Linked DNA regions of Homo sapiens. The protein of the gene in region 1 purifies or fractionates together with the protein of each later gene. This does not show direct contact. Each region holds a gene or a part of one and is shown in the gene's direction. Other genes may lie near its edges.

Evidence for each region.
Region 2: the proteins of CNOT11 (region 1) and BTG3 purify together in Homo sapiens (co-immunoprecipitation; 3 studies listed by BioGRID and IntAct, with this or other methods). This does not show direct contact.
Region 3: the proteins of CNOT11 (region 1) and TNKS1BP1 purify together in Homo sapiens (affinity purification with mass spectrometry; 6 studies listed by BioGRID and IntAct, with this or other methods). This does not show direct contact.

What each region holds. Positions count from the first base shown.
Region 1 is NC_000002.12:101,266,386-101,269,885, forward strand, and holds part of CNOT11 (CCR4-NOT transcription complex subunit 11), read left to right. Parts: exon of another isoform or gene 1-291; coding exon 292-494; intron 495-2,654; coding exon 2,655-2,751; intron 2,752-2,830; coding exon 2,831-3,028; 3' UTR 3,029-3,500. UniProt on the Homo sapiens protein: Component of the CCR4-NOT complex which is one of the major cellular mRNA deadenylases and is linked to various cellular processes including bulk mRNA degradation, miRNA-mediated repression, translational repression during translational initiation and general transcription regulation.
Region 2 is NC_000021.9:17,599,333-17,603,058, reverse strand, and holds part of BTG3 (protein BTG3), read left to right. Parts: intron 1-3,726. UniProt on the Homo sapiens protein: Overexpression impairs serum-induced cell cycle progression from the G0/G1 to S phase.
Region 3 is NC_000011.10:57,322,822-57,326,647, reverse strand, and holds the start of TNKS1BP1 (182 kDa tankyrase-1-binding protein), read left to right. Parts: upstream 1-1,695; 5' UTR 1,696-1,808; intron 1,809-3,826. Other genes in the region: FACT complex subunit SSRP1, read left to right, coding at 170-241.

The sequences.
Region 1 (3,500 bases):
TATCTGACCAGACAGTGTGGAGTCTGGTTTGATGCCCAGGAATAGGAATCACTAGCATATTTATAAACTGTCTTAGATGTGTTTGCATTTTAGTTTGTTCAAAATTAAAATGTAAATTTAGAAATGTCAAGACATCATGGGTTTGAAGGAAGAAATTTATGAAGTTGGTTCAATGCAGATAGTTTTGTAGCTTTTTGTATAAAATGCTTATTTCATATACATGGGAAAAAAAATTGACTCAACACCCTTTCTCTCTCCCTCTCTCTCTCTTTAAAAATCTGGTGTATTTAGCTACTTGGTGAGTTGGAAAAAGACCCCAAACTTGTCTACCATATTGGCCTCACCCCAGCCAAACTTCCTGACCTTGTGGAAAACAACCCTTTAGTCGCTATAGAAATGTTGCTGAAATTAATGCAGTCAAGCCAGATCACTGAGTATTTCTCTGTCCTGGTCAATATGGACATGTCTTTACATTCAATGGAAGTTGTAAATCGGTAAGTTTCTAGATTTGATCAAATGTGTGGGGATAGATACAGATTAGATGGCCAGGAAAGAAAAATTGTAACAGATTTTTGTCTTGATATTATTGGCGTAAGATTAACTATTAAAGAAATAATGTAAGCCTTAGCATTCACTACATGTAAATTTAGCATGCGTTAATAAGAACTGAGGGTAGGATTTCAAACATATTTAGTGTTAGTAGAAGCATAAATGAAATTTAATTGCTGAAATTTATTTTATTTATTTATTTTTTTGAGAGGGAGTCTCACTCTGTTGCCCAGGCTAGAGTGCAGTGGCGTGATCTCAGCTCACTGCAACCTCCACCCGCTGGGTTCAAGCAATTCTCCTGCCTTAGCCGCCCTAGTAGCTGGCATTACAGGTGTGTGCTACCACACCCGACTAATTTTTGTATTTTTAGTAGAGACGGGGTTTCGCCATGTTGGTCAGGCGGGTCTCGAACTTCTGACCTCAAGTGATCTGCCCACCTCAGCCTCCCAAGTGCAAGGATTACAGGCATGAGCCAGTGTGCCAGCCAATTGCTGAAATTTATTTCCCTATACATAGTCCTGTCTTCTTTATCCCTATACAAATATAGATACTATTTTTTCTTAGTGACTAACAGCTGTAAGTGTGGAAAAATATGGACCTTAAGAGCTGAGAATCCTAGGAATGCTGTCCTAGCTTCCTCGTGCTCTTCTCCCAGCCTTTCTGACCCCCAGGCTCCTGACCCTGCCATCCTTGACTGTCAGGAAAACAGAACATCTTCCCTTCTTGATGTGTGCTGTACAGTGTTTGCATTTTAGAGTATTTTCCTTACAAATATCTTTTAGGTAAATTGTGAATTAGATGGGCTGGAGGGCTTAAGTTGTTTATGTGCAGGGTGGCCAGAGGTTCAGGTGTGCCTGAGAGTCCTGGTGGAGGCTTTGCATCCTGAGCTCCCTTTCACGTGGTATCCTGTTTTGGATGATAAATTATATGGTCCTCCTGTATGGGGAAATCCATTCTGAGTGCCAAGCAACTAAACTTCAGTACTGGAGAGCATAGTTTTTGAACACCTGTTTGTAAGTTGGGGCTTTTTGAAAAAATCTATGTGAAATTGAACTACAGAATGTGTCCTTTTTTCATCAACTATTGGGGGAAAAAAAGCCCAGCTGGAAGCTGAGGGAGTGGAAGTACGTGCATAGAAGGAGAGTGCGTTCTTTTAGCGGTAGCAGAGGGAGGAAATGTGAGGTTTCCAAATTAATTTTTAACTTTAACCGTGGTCACTGGCAAAACCGGCTAGCTGCTTGTTGAAAACGTGCTGCTGCACATCTCCCCCCTCTTTGTTCCAGTCTTTCCCCTACTGAGTGAAGACTCACTCTTTTCAGTGGCCCAGTTCTGTGCAGGTCCTCCGGATTGACCACGCTGAGTGTTCACTTCCCTTTCACCATATTCTTATAGCAGTTCTTGTCTCTACCAGACATTTGGCCCTGAGTCCAAGATGCAGAATCACTTACATCTTTTTATCAATGTGATTCTATCTGCTCAGTATCTTGGAATTCAAGGACAAGGTCCTGTTTGTTTTCCCCCGATACCTATCATAGTGCATCATCCTTAAACGTGAAACACGTTTTTTGGCGACGCACAAATCTCAAGAGACTGCAGCAGCTCATGACAGTGTCCTTGGAGCACTACATCCTCATGCCTTATTGAAAAAAGTTTTGAGGTCTGTTAAGTTTAGAAAAGGCAGCATATATTAATCTTCTTTTGGAAATTCATACTTTGAGTACGGAATTCCTGTTCCCACCCCACTCGTTTTTCTCATTAAAACATTCCATGTAATCCTTTGGAAAATACTGGCTTTGGCCTTTATTATGACTCTAAATTCCAATAACAGACCATGACTTAGGATTTAACCAAGAATACTCAGGGACAGGGCTCAAAAAAATAATTGCGATATGTAAATGTAAGTAGAGACATTTTAAACAGTGTTATTTATGAGTAAGTAGGTATGGCTCTTAGGTTAATTTGCCCAAGTATATTTAAAACTAGGGAATTGGATATGTCAGAAAATTCCACCAGATGACCAAAGCAAATTTTGTATTTTATGGTTAACAGTGTTTCTCAATGTTAGCAAATGAAATTAATGGGCCAAATTTTCTTTTACGAAACAGACTAACTACAGCTGTTGATCTACCTCCTGAATTTATTCACCTTTATATATCAAATTGCATCTCTACTTGTGAACAGATTAAGGATAAATATATGCAGGTAATATAAATTTTTGTAAATTTTATAAATGGCTGCCAGGAAAATGAGCAGACTAACATTTTTTTTTTTCCTTTTTCAGAATCGGTTGGTGCGTCTTGTGTGTGTGTTTCTCCAATCCTTGATCCGTAACAAAATTATTAATGTACAGGATTTGTTTATAGAAGTGCAGGCATTCTGTATTGAATTCAGTAGGATACGAGAAGCTGCTGGTCTTTTCCGGTTGTTGAAGACATTGGATACTGGGGAAACACCTTCTGAGACCAAAATGTCAAAATAATACCTCATCAGAACCATCCCATCCATTCACTGTTCAGCTGTACTGTGATTTAGTTTTTACACCGTTAAAACCCTGAGTGGATTGCTTGGTTTAATGCATATAAACAGTACTTTATCTACTTAAAGCAAAGTTTTGCTTTCTTGAATGACTTTTTCTGTGAGATGAATTTTTGATAAGAACTAGGGAAAACATGTCTTTTAGGTGTCTTGCTGATGACTATCCATAGGAGGAATGGCTATCCCAAAAAAAGTTCCGCAAAAAAGTAGATGAGTTTCTTTTTTTTTTAAGCACTAAAGAACAAAATGCATTTTTCATTAATACAGGCTTCTGATGAACCAGGAATCCTGTTTTCGTAAAGTTCCAATGTTGATGAGAGTAAATTCTTAAGCATTTGTCCTAGAGGTGAAAGCAGCTGAATGTTTCTGAACCATCAAGAGGCAAACAAACAGGAGTTTGTTTCTTGAACCTGCTT
Region 2 (3,726 bases), on another chromosome or scaffold:
TTAAAGAGGGTTGATGAGTCAGACGCTACCAAAAAATGTCATGTGGTCTGACATAGAGGCAAAAATGAAAAAGCTAAAAAATCAGCACGATTATGTTATCACACAATCAAATAGTTTACGTTCAATATAATGATCCTAAACCATCAGGGGAAAGTTTTTATGTCCAAGGATGTTTAACAAGTTACATAATTATATAAACATTTTGGACCTATGTATTTAAAATGCTTAAAATAAGTCTCAGTACCTGAACATAAAAACTTTAGTTATACGGACATTCTACTTCAGTAGACATTTCATTACTTGATGATGCCTGGTAGGAAAAAACTGCTACTTTGCTTTCATCTTATTAATCTTAGAAAACCTTTTCATTCAGTAGGCTTCTAATTTATATGTAAATTTGCCAAAAATTGGCTCTGATGTGATTTTTTTCACAGCTAATAGAAATCACCTGCGAGTGTCAGGTGTTCATTCAATAACAGAACCCCAAAAAGAAAGACGTATTAATCGTTTAGTAGAGGTGGTTGATATAAGTTAACAGAAGAAAAAGACATTGAGAAATATTTTTTCACCAAAACTGGAAACATAGATATTTTGAAAATTAAAGCTGATCTAGCAAGTATACAATTGATCAAATATCTGAGAATCTTTAAAAATAATAACTCATTGGTATACTAGAGACTAAGATTGTAAAAAAAAATTGAGATGCACTGAGAACATTCTTCATAGTCTTCACTTACTCTGATAGAATAAAATGCTGCAAGAGTACAAAGAGTGCCATATAGTTAGAAAGGTTATCACTTCGTGATACAGAATAGAAAATAAATCTTGCCTATGATGAGAAGTTCTGAGAACAGATGCCAGCTTATCTACTCAACATATTTTACAACTTTTTTTTTTTTTGGTGATTTCTGCCATCCTTTTTTTCCCCCAATAGAGTGTTAAATACTATTGATTGTTTCTAAATAACTAAATTAGCCTTGATGTTTTATCAGTGATCATTGAAAAATGGAAAGTTTAAAAGTTGTCCAGGTGTCTACTAATTCTCCTAAGATATCGACTGCACATTGTAATGTTATAGTAGTATAGTCAGCAGCTTCTCTTACCATGAAGAGAGAGCCTTCATACCAAAATAGTACAAAGGGAAAAATGCAGAACCAAACTAGGTGTCAAAGAAATCTGAGTTAATAATGCTGATCCTTCAATCATTAGATATTTGCCCTTGGTTGAGGTTTCTGTTTACAAAGGCAGGAATTTTTCTCAAATTTCTTGCCTTTCCATTTTTGAATTTTGATTCCATTAATGGGCAAAACTGAAGATAGGCCTAAGTCATTGTTATATTAGTGTCATTAACACATGAATTAACCCTTGATTGTCTTGAAATTTGTTGAGTCTTCCAACTGTGGAGGGGACATGGAGTAAATGTGTATTGCTAAAACCTTATGCTAAGTAAACTTGAAATTAGAGAACACAAATTTTATGTTGTGAGGAACTCAATTGTTTAGGAATTTATTTTTTGTTTGTTTTGTTTTGTTTTAGAGAGAGGGTCTTGCTGTGTTGTCCAGGCTGGAATGCGGTGGCATGATCATAGCTCACTATAATTGTGAACTCCTGGGCTCAAGCAATCTTCCTGCCTTGACCTTCCAAAGTACTAGAATTATAGATGTAAGCTACCATGTCCAGCTTCTGTTTAGGTATTTTATACTACGAAGAGTCACCAGCCGTAGATCAACCACTATCTAGCCAGCTCCAGCTTCCTCGTCCAGCATATAGGAAACTAAGGCCTAGGGAAATTAAGTGACTTGCCTCTGGTGACCAAGCTAGTCAGTGGCAGAGCCAGAATGAGAAACTAGTCTAATGCCCTTTCTACCATCCCGTAGCAACTTTTTTTTTTTTTTTGAGACGGAGTCTCACTCTGTCGCCCAGGCTGGAGTGCAGTGGTGCGATCTCAGCTCACTGCAACCTCTGCCTCCCAGGTTCAAGCAATTCTCCTGCCTCAGCCTCCCGAGTAGCTGGGATTACAGGCGCACACCACCATGCCCGGCTAATTTTTTGTATTTTTAGTAGAGACAGGGTTTCACCATGTTGGCCAGGCTGGCCTCGAACGCCTGACCTCATGATCCACCCGCCTTGGCCTCCCAAAGTGCTGGGATTACAGGCATGAGCCACCGCGCCCAGCCCCTGTAGCAACTTTTATGAGGTAAACTAAAAAAGAATACAAAAGCGAAGTTATGTACTATATTTAAGTAGTATTTATAGTTTCATTTGGCCTATAGGAATGGAAGACAGCATAGCTATCTGAAGAAATAGAACTCATCTATGTGTGATCTCTGAGACTGCTAGATTTCCACATACATTTTCTTTTCTGTTTTTTTAATTTTTTGTTCTTGTTTTTTTGTTTTTTTGAGAGACAGGGTCTCACCATGTTACCCAGACTGGTCTCAAATTCCTGGGCTCAAGCAGTCTGCCCACCTAGGCCTCCTGAAGTGCTGGAATTACAGGTGTAAGCCACTGCACCCAGCCTCATGTACATTTTCAAAGGCTTTATAGCAGTTAAGCCTTTTACTTTATAATAGATAACCATTCTGATTCAGAAATAATTTGAGACGAGTGCTATCTTGAAATGAATTAACTTCAGCTAACTATTGAATCAAAAGCTTGACATTATTTCTACTTAGAGTTACTTATTTTTATCTTTTTTCAAACTTAGAATCACTTTAATTACATTTCTAACTGTATGTGTTTTGTAAGAACCGCTTAACAATATCCTTTGTCCTGATGCTAGAAATTGTTTGATAGTGTTGACACTGTGCAATCTATTTAAATAGATTTGTGGATTTCTCCTATGTCCACTGAATAAAAACTCTTGGTTTTACTTGAGTTTATTACACTATTTTCCTACAGTTCAGAATTTTTTTTTAAGTAACCAGCAGCATATGTTACATATTTTGACAACTTAAAAAAAATCAAAAATCTTCAAAAATGTTTTGGAAGAATAACAAGATTTTTTCATCTTACCTTAAAAAAAATTAAGATGAGAGGTGAGTAGTTATCCTAGGAAACTCTGAAGTAAGCAATATAATTTAAGCAAAACCTCTATATTCTTCAACAACTATCTTTTTTCTTTAATCTCAATAACTGCCTCAGTTCTCATTTTTGTGAGTATAAATAACAGGCCCCCTTTTTTATTTAATTGGGGTTAAAGTCAATTTTATAGGAAATTTCTAGTTGATCTGTGACTTGAATTACTAGCATATATGTTACATTTATAAGTACAGCTGGGGCTGGGCGTGATGGCTCACGCCTATAAACCCAGCACTTTGGGAGGCCGAGGCGGGTGGATCACCTGAGGTCAGGAGTTCAAGACCAGCCTGGCCAGCATGGTGAAACCTCATCTCTACTAAAAATACAAAAATTAGCTGGGCGTGGTGGTGGGCACCTGTAATCCCAGCTACTTAGGAGGCTGAGGCAGGAGAATCACTTGAACACCTGGGAGGTGGAGATTGTAGTGGGCCGAGATTGCACCCATTGCACTCCAGCCTGGGCAACAGAGTGAGACTCCGTCTCAAAAAAAAAAAAAAAAAAATCAGCCAGTGGCGCATGCCTGTAATTCTAGCACTTTGGGTAGCTGAAGTGGGTGGATCTCTTGAGCCTAGGAGTTTGGGACCAGCCTCAGCAACATGGTGAAACCCTGTCTCTAAAAATGTATATAAATTAGCTGAGCATGGT
Region 3 (3,826 bases), on another chromosome or scaffold:
GTGTGGGGTTGGTCTGTAAGAGTAATGAGTTGGAGTGGATGGTGGAATTCTGAGGTTCTGAAGGGGGGTGCTGTAGTTGGGGGCGGTAGGGAATTGCGGGCCCTTCACTGAAGAGTGGGTGGGGCACCCAGGACTCCAGCTTTTCCCTTAAGACACCTTTGGTTTTCAGGACTCTGAAGAAGAAGAACTAGCCAGTACTCCCCCCAGCTCAGAGGACTCAGCGTCAGGATCCGATGAGTAGAAACGGAGGAAGGTTCTCTTTGCGCTTGCCTTCTCACACCCCCCGACTCCCCACCCATATTTTGGTACCAGTTTCTCCTCATGAAATGCAGTCCCTGGATTCTGTGCCATCTGAACATGCTCTCCTGTTGGTGTGTATGTCACTAGGGCAGTGGGGAGACGTCTTAACTCTGCTGCTTCCCAAGGATGGCTGTTTATAATTTGGGGAGAGATAGGGTGGGAGGCAGGGCAATGCAGGATCCAAATCCTCATCTTACTTTCCCGACCTTAAGGATGTAGCTGCTGCTTGTCCTGTTCAAGTTGCTGGAGCAGGGGTCATGTGAGGCCAGGCCTGTAGCTCCTACCTGGGGCCTATTTCTACTTTCATTTTGTATTTCTGGTCTGTGAAAATGATTTAATAAAGGGAACTGACTTTGGAAACCATGTCCTCATGCTTTCTTTGTAGCCTTGGTGTGTTGCTCCCACTTTTATTGGTGGTGTTTACTGCTCTGGTCAGACTGGGCAGGGCCTTCCTGGCCAGCCGGGAAGCAAGTCTCGAGGTACATCCTGTTCTGTTCCCGGCTGGACGAGCATTGGTTTTCACCCGCCTCTGCCCGGATGGGCCACCTGAGAGTCTAGAAATGAGAGCTGATCTGATTAGGAAGTTTCTCCCAGTTACACTCCATTAGCCAACCAAGCTAGGGGGAGGCAGCTCTTGGCTGCATCCTTACCTATGAGTCAAGGGTCTTCCAAGGCTTTCGATAATGAAATCAGGATTGACTGTCCTTCCCGCAGCCGGGGGAGTGGAAACCTGAGCCTGGAGAGTCGGGGAGGATGAGCGTGTGCGTAGAGTGGTGGTGGTTGCAGCCTGGTGGTGGTGCAACAAAGTACGGAGTTATATGTGAAGCTTTTGTTCTTACGGGAAGAAGGGGGTATACAAACTTCAGTGTAGGGAGGAACCCATGTCTGAGAAGGGGCCTAAAAGGAGATAAAGGTCACTAATGAGGAATGCAGAGCTGCCAGACTTCTTCACGGTGGCTCTAAATCTGAATTGACACAGGAGGGTGGCCACGTTGCGCGCGTTCTCAGCACTCAGGTGGTTGTATCAGGAAGCCGCTTCAGTCAGCCGGCGGCTACCTTCTTGCCGGCGTAGCTCGATGATACTGTGCTCTGTGCAGGCGGCGGAGCCCGGGAGGGGCCGCCAAGGCAGTTTCTCTAGGCAGTCGTCTCGGTGGCCATTTTACCCGAGCGCTCCCGGCTGAATTGCGTCAGTTTCGCCCCGGTCTGAGACTGGGGCGGGCCCCTCATCTGCAAGCCTCATGAATAATTGAGTGCTGGGCCGCGCCTGTTTGCCGACGGTGGGACGAATTCTGCACGGGCTTCCCACTCCCGGGTTCCAACCGGCTCATGCATATTCATGAAGCGCCCTGGGGGCGTGGACCTGGGCGGAGTTGGGGCGGGGCCCCGCCGGGGCTCGCAGTGGCTTCGTCCCGCGGTGACGGCGGCGGCGGCGGCGGTAGCAGCGGCGGCGGCGGCGGGGACTGGCATCGGGGCCCCGAGCCGAGCGGAGCCGGACCCCGGGCGAGCGCGTGAGTGCGCGGGGGCGGTCGGGCGAAGGAGGGGGCGGGGTCCGGGATGGGGCGGGGGAGGGGCATGGAAGGAGTGGGTGCTTTCCAGCCGACACCTCGGGTTGAGGTGGTGGTGGTCGGGGGGTCACCAGGAAAGTTTGCAGGGGCCGAGGGCGCTGGGGACGCTGGAGGCCCGGGGGAAGGTGGCGCGTGTGCGCGGAGGCGGAGGGCGCATGGCTTGGAGCTCGTGCTGGCAGAGCCAGAAGAAAGGGGGGAGGGGGCGAGGGCTTGGGGCGGGGCCGGGGGCGGGCAGAGCCGCTGGAGGGACCCCTGCCTCCCCTTCCTCCGGGCCGCGCTAGCCCCCTCCCCCGGCTCCTTCGGCACGCCCCCAGCCACCCCAGTCCGCCCCCACCTGATCGACGTCTGCAGCCCACCGTCTGTTCGCCGGCTGCTTCACAGCCCGCTCACAGGTCCTCCGCTTCTGCCGCCACCGCAGCCCCCTCCTCCTCCTCCTCTTCGGCTGCCGCCGTCCCTTCTGTGTCCAGAGCTCCCCACTGGGCCCCTCCAGACAGCCCATTGCCCGGGGCTGTTCCATCTTCCCGTTGGCCCTCCCTCTTTCCAGCAGTTTACGTGCTGTCCCTGCCGACCTCTCTAGCCTCGGATCCGGCTGGAGATCCTGGGGTCCATAGGGGCGACCCCGCCTGCGCCGAGTCCCCTCCGGGGCTGGAGCTGCCCAGCCCTTCTGGAGGCCTTATCTGCCAGGGGTCAGCTCGTTTCTACCCTGCTACCCTCTACCCCCTGGTCTCTTGAGGGTGGGGAGTGCTCAGAACCGCTGCGAATCGCAGCTTCTGGCCACAGCCTTGGTGGCCTTGGTCACCTGGGGCCCCTGGCTGGGGTCTCTGAGTTGCTGTGGCCACCTCCGCACCTGGGGACTCTGAGCCCGCCTTCATTGCTGCAGCCCCTCATACCGCAGAGGGGCCCATCAGAACCCCAGGTGAAAGGATTTTTTTGGTTCTGAGCCAATTAATTTCCATCTCCAACCACCCACACTATGTTCCTAGTAATAATGTTCAAGGACAAGGAAACAATCTTGTGTTTTAATTTTATTTTTTCTATCATGTGCCCCTCCCCCCACCACACTTGGCCTGGCTCTGCACAGTTATTCACCCACCCACAGTGGGCAGTCTTCCGTGGTGGTTAACTGACCAATGGGTTGACAGTACTGGGTTTCTCTACTGTCTTCATACCCTCTCCCATCTTTGAAACACCTGGGGCAGGGTCAGCGTTAGGGGAGGGGTGTTGGATTTTGCAGAGGATGAGCACTGGGGGTCCCTTTTAAGGATTTGGTGCTGTCTTCCCAGACCAGCTGGAGTGGGTGACTTTAAGTGAGGCAATGCCCCTTGCAGGTTGGAGAAGTTTGGGTTGTCCTCAGGGCTCTGCATACCAGGTGAGGGAAACTTCCGCCTTGCATGAGAGGTGCAGGGCCCTATCCCCCAGGGTCTCCATGTTTTTGTGGGTGGGAGAGTGCTTCAGGAGTCAGGATGGGAACTGAGGAGGTGGTTGGAGTATCTGAAGAACAGGTGACAGGACTAGGGCCTGGGAGAGTGAAGGAATGGTCTGGGAATGCTGGTAGCCTGGGGTCAGGGAAGAGGAGGAGGTGGTTATCAGGGATGTTAGCTCATTGGTGACACTGAATGGAATCACAGTAATAATAGGCAACATTTGTTGAACACTTATTATGTGCTAGGCATTGTGCTAAGCCTATTTCATGTACTATTTCATGTAAGCCCCCTCAGGGTCTCAATAATCCCATTTTTCAGTTGGAGAAACTGAGGCTTGGAGAAGTCACAGGGCTAGAAAGTGGTAGACCCACCCAGCACTGAATCTTGGTATATCAGATCCTGAAGCTCATGTGACAGGCTTCTACCACCAGGCTGTGCCTCTTGGTTTAATTTCTTCTGTCCCCCTCAGAACTCCTTAAAGCCAACCCTAGGCTGGTGAGTGAAGCCCACATAACCCCTTTTCATACATAGGCTGTG